2 linked regions of the Homo sapiens genome follow. The protein of the gene in region 2 interacts with the protein of the main gene of each other region in a biochemical or structural test. Each region holds a gene or a part of one and is shown on either strand. Other genes may lie near its edges. The genes, in order: TMEM41B and VMP1.

Region 1 (3,917 bases), on a different chromosome or scaffold from region 2:
TAGCTGAGGCTGCAGCAAGCTATGATCATGCCACTGCACTCCAGCATAGGTGACACAGCGAGGCCTTGTCTCAAGTCACTAAAAACAGGCCTTACTTCATCATGAAGTGAAGGCACGCCTTCACATCTCTTCCCTGTCTTCCTATAGATTTGTGATCTATAGATGTCATGGGACAGCATCATAAGAATAATTGTAGGCCAGGCGTGGTGGCTCACGCCTGTAATCCCAGCACTTTGGGAGGCCGAGGCGGGCGGATCAACAGGTCAGGAGATCGAGACCATCCTGGCTAACAAGGTGAAACCCCATCTCTACTAAAAATACAAAAATTAGCCCGGCGTGGTGGTGGGCGCCTGTAGTCCCAGCTACTCGGGAGGCTGAGGCAGGAGAATGGCGTGAACCCAGGAGGCGGAGCTTGCAGTGAGCCAAGATTGCGCCACTGCACTCCAGCCTGGGTGACAGACCGAGACTCCGTCTCAAAAAAAAAAAAAAAAAAAAGAATAATTGTGTTGAATGTTTTGTTGTAATGATAAAATAAGATTAAAAAGTAAGAGCACTTTGGAAGTTTCAAGGTTTTATTTTTTGAATAGCTTTAGGTAAAAATCATGAATACAACTGGCTGCTACCTCAAATGAGATGTCAATTTTTAGGGATGCCCTATCTGGAACACTTTTTCAGGAAACCCAGACCTTGGAATATTGTCACCCTCAGTAGTAGAGTCTTCAAAACAATCTTTCTTTTATTCAGAGCTGATTTATACATTAACAACGATTCATTTCTCAGTTTTTGAAATTATATGAAGTCACCTGGATCCAGTGTATATAAGCTGGAAAAATACCCAAAAACATAAGGCTGACAGAGCCAAATTAGACTGTTGGAGACATTTTAAATTATTTGAAAATACATTAACATTTTCTACTACATACTCTTAGAAGTTCTCCTAGCCATCACTGGTGGTGGAACACACCTATGTGAGCTACAGACAAACTTGTTAGGATCACTTTAAGTTTATGAGCTTTAAAATCATTTAAAGAACGATTCCAGGCCAACACGGAATCAAAGTATTTAGTTTCTACGTACAGTTTTTTCCTTAAAACAATATTTAAAGCCGTGAGATTCTGCAATTATAGAGGCAGTAGGAATAAAGAGAAAACAAAAACCAAAAATAAAGCCGTGAGAAATGTCAGGATGATGTAGTGGGGAAATAAACTTTAGAATGAGTGACCTTAGCTGTAACTAAGTAATTGCTAATATTTATTTAGCCCCCACTTCATATCCAAGCATTGCTCTAAATCTTTTACGTGAATTATTTCGTTTAACCCACGCACCACCTATTAAGTAGATATTATTATTATCCCCATTTCACAGTTCAGACACTGAGCTTTTTTTGAAAGTTACCAAGTCCAAGGTTCCAAGTAAACAGTAGGGCAGGGACTCAAGCCCAGGTGTACTGCCACCTGGAAGTATTAAGTCCTCGCTCCTAACTACTACTTCACTGATCTGGCTTTATGACTTTATAAGTCATATACCCACACTGGGCCTCAGTTTCTTCATCTGTAAAAACAACGCAGCGAATGCCACAGTACAGCTCCTTCCAGCTCTGCCTAGCGTCGTTATCATCAACCTTACAATCTACCTGAGCGTCAACAAGCCAGTGTCATCCCTTCTTTTAAATGAATTCTACTCAAACAGCATTTACAACGCACCTACTCGGCGTCCGGCCTTGTGCTGCGCGAGCGCCCAAGCCCAACTCCCCCACGGTCTCTGCTCCCGCCGCGGCGCCAGCAGGCCCCCCTCTTTCCCCGCGACTCTCCGAGAATAGCGGGGGTCCTTTTCCCCACCCGACACACAGAAGCCTCGGGCCACCCCCAGCTCTGCTCCCCGGGCCCACTCACCCTTCTGGTGGTCTCTGCTGCCAGGCGCCGCGAGACCCCGCGTCCCCGCTGCCCCGTCCCCCACGGGGGTCGTGTGGTGAGCGCCCAACTGCGATCGTTCGGCGACTCTGCCTTTCGCCATGGCTGCTGCAAGGTGAAGGGAGCGGTGCGGTGCCGCGCCCCCTAAACAACAAAACTCTGTTGCAGGCTCCTTACTACGCCGAAGCGCCACGGCTAGAGCCACTTCCGGCGCGACCTCCTCACCCGAGACGACCTCAGCCCAGCGAGTACTGCAACCTCCTGCAAACACCCGCAGCGCCCACCACAGGCTAAACCCCGCCCCGTGCCGCCCCCGAGCCTCGCGTGCTCGCGCCGGCCCAGTAACCGCGAGACAAGTCAGGGTCCTGGACCGCCCCCTTCAGTGCCCCGCCCCGGCCCGCCCGCGGGAAAGAGGTGGCCGCCGGGCGCTGGGGCGAGAGCATGCGCAGTCGCGGCACTCGAGTCACCCGGCTGCGACTCGCTGGCCCTGGCGTCTAAAGCGTAGCCTTAATTACCCGGAAGTGCGGTCCCAGGGACTTCAAACCTTTTGTCCAGGCCGCCGGAGGTGCCTGTGATTAGTCGGCATTTCGCGGCTGAGGCTGATTCAGCCCATTACATCAATTCCGCAGCTGCTGTCTTCAATTTGGAGGCGCCAGAGAGTGCTTGATCTAAAAGATGGTGGGAAATACAAAGGTTGAGCAAAACCTACCTGAATTTCAGGAAACTAAGGCTCAGAGAGGGCTACGTACAACCTGTGAAGATCACAGGATGGCAAAAATGGGCTTAGAATCCAGGTTGTCCTGTTCCCAAAGCTAACGGTTTTGCATTAGCTGCTGCCCCTTACTACTAAACCCAAGTCAGCTCTACATTTAGCTTATCCCTAAGCTAAGCGGAAACATGCCTTTTCCACAGGTAACTTTTTCTGCTTCTACCCCTCAGAGCACATTCAGCTTACTCACCGTGGTTACCTCTTGAAAGCAACTTAGAGGCCGGTCGCGGTGGCTCAAGCCTGTAATCCCAACACTTTGGGAGGCCAAGGCGGGCGGATCATTTGAGACCAGGAGTGTGAGGCCAGACTGGCCAAAATGGTGAGATGAGACCCCGTCTCTGCTAAAAATACAAAAATGAGCTGGACATGATGGCTTGTAATCCCAGCTACTCGAGAGTGTGAGTCAGGAGAATCGCTTGAACCCCGGAGGCTGAGGTTGCGGTGAGAAATTGCACCGCTGCACTCCAGCATAGACCACAAAGCAAGACTCCGTCCCAAAAAAAAAAAAAAAAAATCCTGATTGTTTCTATTCAGTAATTACATTTGTAGGAAATTATTCCATGAAAATAAACATAAATAATTCCTCTGTATTAGTATAACAGTGAAAAACTAAAAGCAATATAAAAATCCAACACTAAATAAAAATGGTTAAGTAAATTATGGGAAACCCATTCAATTGAACTGTTTTATGTACACATCCTTTGCCTACTTCTGGCTCCCATTTTATTTCCTTCATAGTCATTAAAAGCAATTAATTCTGTGAACTATTTGTTTACTTGTTTATTGTCTGCCTCCACCTTTAGAATATAAGCTTTAAGGCAGGGGCTTTGTCTTTTTGTTTTTTGTTTTTTTAAGTGATGGGAATCTCACTATATTGTCCAGGCTGGATCTGAACTTCTGGACTCAAGGGATCCTCAAGCATCAGCCCTCTGAGTAGCTGGGACTACAGGCTCCATGCTATGGCTCCCAGCTGGGCTTTGTCTTTTTGATCACCATTGTATCCCCGGTAGCTGACAGAGTGCCAATACCTAAGTGGCCATTCAATGAATTTGTTGAATAATTTTTTTTTTTGAGATGGTGCCCAGCCGAATAAATTTTCAATCTTAGGAAATTATATTTATGGGCCAGGTGCCATGGCTTACACCTGTAATTTCAGCACTTTGGGAGACCAAGGTGGGCGGATCACCTTGAGGTCGGGAGTTCAAGTCAAAAAAAAAAAAAAGAAAACATTTTATATA
Region 2 (3,917 bases):
TCATAAATTAATGGGTTAATGGATTAATGGGTTATCATGGGGGTAGGACTGGTTGCTTTATAAGCAGAGAAAAAGAGAACTGAGCTTGCACACTCAGCTCCCCCTCCATGTGATACTCTCGGCACTCTGCAGAGTCCCTCCAGCAAGAAGGCCCTTACCCAATGTGGCCACTCGATCTTGAACTTTTCAGCTTCCACGGCTATAAAAATTAAATTCCTTTTCTTTATAAATTACCCAGTTTCGGGTATTCTGGTATAAGCAACAGAAAACGGACTAAGAAACCTTCTTTTTTTTTTTTTTTTTTTTTCCTTTTAAGACGGAGTCTCGCTCAGTTGCGCAGGTTGGAGTGCAGTGGCACGATCTTGGCTCACTGCAACCTCTGCCTCCCGGGTTCAAGCGATTCTAATGCCTCAGCCTCCCTAGCAGTGGGGATTACAGGTGCCCACCACCACGCCCAGCTAATTTTTGTATTTTTAGTAGAGATGGGGTCTCACCATGTTGGCCAGGCTGATCTTGAACTCTTGACCTCAAGTGATCTGCGCACCTTGGCCTCTCAGTGTTGGGATTACAGGTGTGAACCATTGTGCCCAGCCCTAAGATACCTTCTTAGTCTCCGTTTTGTTAAAAAAAAAAGTCTCTCTTTTTTTTAACAAAAAAAAAAAAAAAAAAAGAGAGATGGGGTTTTGCCATGTTGTCCAGGCTGGTCTCGAACTCCTGGACTCAAGCGATCCACCCACCTCAGCCTCCCAAAGTTCTGGGATTACAGGAGTGAGCCACTGCATCCAGCCCAGATCTTTCTTTTACCTGCCCTTGGCCCTCTCCTCTCCCTATCTCCCCAGGTGACTCATCTGGTCCATGGTTGAAAATACTATCCCGTATTTGTATTTCTGGTTTTGACCTCTAGATTTATATATGTAAGTGCGTGACTTGGATGATTTATTATTATTATTATTATTATACTTTAAGTTCTAGGGTACATGTGCACAATGTGCAGGTTTGTTACATATGTATACATGTGCCATGTTGGTGTGCTGCACCTATTAACTCGTCATTTACATTAGGTATATCTCCTAATGCTATCCCTCCCTCCTTCCCCCAACCCACAACAGGCCCCGGTGTGTGATGTCCCCCCTCCTGTGTCCATAGATGATTCTTTAAGTGTCTCAAAATTAACATGTCCTTTTCTCCCTACACCTACCCACCTTCTTGTAACAAACAAACCTGGTCTTCTCCAAACCTCCCTTCTCCCAGTACCTGGCACAACCACCCACCCAGTCACTAAATCCAGAAGCTTAGTCATCCCTGACACTTCCCTTTTTCTTACCACTCATCTAACCCAGGACCAAGTCCTATACCAAATATATTTGGTATCCACACACAACTGTCCATCTTCTTTGCTACCCTTCTAGTCCAGACCATCTTCATCTTCTTCTTGGACTATGCAGTGGACTCTCAACTTCTCTCTCCATTTCTGTTCTTGCCCGCTTCAATTCATCCTTCACACATGAACAACAATGAACTTCTTATAAATCCTATTACTCCTCTACTTAAAATTGTAGAATGATTTCCTACTGCACTCAAAATCAAATTCAAACTCATTCCCTTGGCCTGCAAAATTCTGCATGACCTGGATCCTGTATATATTTCCTATATCATCTCATGTCAATGTATTCCAAGTCTATTATGCTCCAGCCTCAAATAAGCATATATCCACATTGTTAACTCTCTCTTAGACCCTCATGTGCTGCCTTCCTAACAATTCTTATTTCCCATTGTTTTCCCCAGAACCTGGTGTAAGGCCTGGGACACAAAATGTTTGTTCACTGACTGGATAATGAACAGATAAGGCAATAGATGTCACTGGAAAATGATCTTTCCATTCCAAGAAAGTGCTAAAAGACATCATGAAACATCAAAAGTTTCAATTGCCAAATTCTGTGTTATGGCTTACACAGATAATGTAGTCTGTTAATACCAAAAAGTTAACAGAATGGCCCAAAAGAATGCCTCATTTGGTTAAGAATCTCACATATGTTGTAAAATATAGACAAAGTGAAGTGTATACTCAGATATTTATTTACTGGAACTTCATTAATAATGAGCAAACAATAATTAAGTAAGCAGCAACATAAAGCTATGCTTTTAAAAGAGGGCTGGGAAAGAGTTCTTGGCAATAGCTTAGGGGGCCACATGATGATAATGATCACAATCATGGTTAACTATATGCTACAGACACTGTTCTAAATGCTTTATTTAAACCTATTCATTCAATCCTAACAAGAAGGGTATTGACTTCATTGTCCAGGAGGAAACTGAGATAGCAAGAAGTAAAAAGTAACTAATCCAAGAGTTGCATAGTAATAGAGCTAGAATTTGAAAAAAAGCAGTCTAGCTTTATAGCCCTGGCTTTTAACACTACCTGCCTAGTCCTTCCAGGTAATCTATAAAGAACAAAGTTATCATTAAAAAACTCAAGGACAAGAGAAAATACTCCCATGAACTACTGAAAAGATTAAGTAGTTCAAGAATACAAACAAACTCTTGAGCAATTATAGGTATATTAGCTGTGATATAATTACTCAATAGATTGCCCTTGCTTAATTTAAATATGCCTTAAACTTTAAGTATCACCTTTTATCTGACACAGAAAATTATCTCCTGTTCAAATTTCCTTGATGCTGCAAATCAAGGAGCATATTTTAAAATAAGCTTTATATAAGGGCCTACATAATACCTAACTTCAGTTCAGCAAACTCCATCCAAAGCTGCTTTCCCATATAAAATAAGGAATTTCTTGAGGCAATATGCTCTTAGCAATTTACTATTCCTCAAAATATTTGCAAGGCTTTGTGAAAGCAGAGTAACAATTTACAAAACCACGACAAAGTTATCACTTCAATTTGTCCTGTTTATTAGGATTCTCTAATCTAGAGTTCATTTCCACACCAAAATGGGAGACACAGCAAGGGCACTTGGGCAAAAACAGGAATGACAGTAGCACCTAGAACTATCATCTCCGAGAAAGACTAAAGAGACTAAAAAGTTTGTTAAATCAATGGAACCAAAAAAAAAGAGTACCCAACAATGCAAAGAATTAACTCTTCTACAATGGCTATTTACCCAGAATAAAATAACTAGAGAAATGGCTCTATATATAATAGATAATTAACATAACAAAATATTAAAATTACAAACAGCTTGGGGAGGTTTTTTTTTTTGTAAGAGCAAATAATACAGTTCTCTCCTACTGCTTTTCTTTTATTTTCTTCTCTTTTTTTTTTGAGATGGAGTCTCGCTCTGTTGTCCAGGCTGGAGTGCAGTGGCGCGATCTCGGCTCACTGCAACCTCCGCCTCCCGGGTTCAAACGATTCTCATGCCTCAGCCTCCTGAGTAGCTGGGATTACAGGCGTCTGCCACCACACCCAGCTAATTTTTTTGTATTTTTTGTAGACACCGGGTTTCACCATGTTAGACAGGCTAGTCTCAAACTCCTGATCTCAGGTGATCTTCCCGCCTCGGCCTCCCAAAGTGCTGGGATTACAGGCGTGAGCCACGGCGCCTGGCCAGTTCTCTCCTACTCTTTAGCAACAACATTCACAGTAGACACGTGTTAAGGCTCCTCCGTCATTTCCACTTGCCAGAAAGATAACTCAACACATGACAGTCATGAAGCATGAACTCAGACAAACTATTCTGAAGAATATAACTGATTTTCTTTCCTTAATCTATTACACTTCAAATCTAGCCAAGCACAGTTTTTGTTATGCTACAATTTATAAGACTAAACTAGCTAAAGAGGGAAAAAAAGTTTGTAAATAAGGCTTATGTGCGTATGTGTGTATTTACGTGTGTATGTGGATAGATCCCTTTAATACCTAAGAGTAATTATTTTCATGTGAACTTGGAAATATTACCAA

Evidence for each region.
Region 1: the proteins of VMP1 (region 2) and TMEM41B form a complex in vitro, tested with the Homo sapiens proteins (one study listed by BioGRID).

The regions. Positions count from the first base shown.
Region 1 is NC_000011.10:9,312,429-9,316,345, forward strand, and holds the start of TMEM41B (transmembrane protein 41B), read right to left. Parts: upstream 2,166-3,917; 5' UTR 2,014-2,165; coding exon 1,893-2,013; intron 1-1,892. UniProt on the Homo sapiens protein: Phospholipid scramblase involved in lipid homeostasis and membrane dynamics processes. Has phospholipid scramblase activity toward cholesterol and phosphatidylserine, as well as phosphatidylethanolamine and phosphatidylcholine.
Region 2 is NC_000017.11:59,710,437-59,714,353, reverse strand, and holds part of VMP1 (vacuole membrane protein 1), read right to left. Parts: intron 1-3,917. UniProt on the Homo sapiens protein: Phospholipid scramblase involved in lipid homeostasis and membrane dynamics processes. Has phospholipid scramblase activity toward cholesterol and phosphatidylserine, as well as phosphatidylethanolamine and phosphatidylcholine.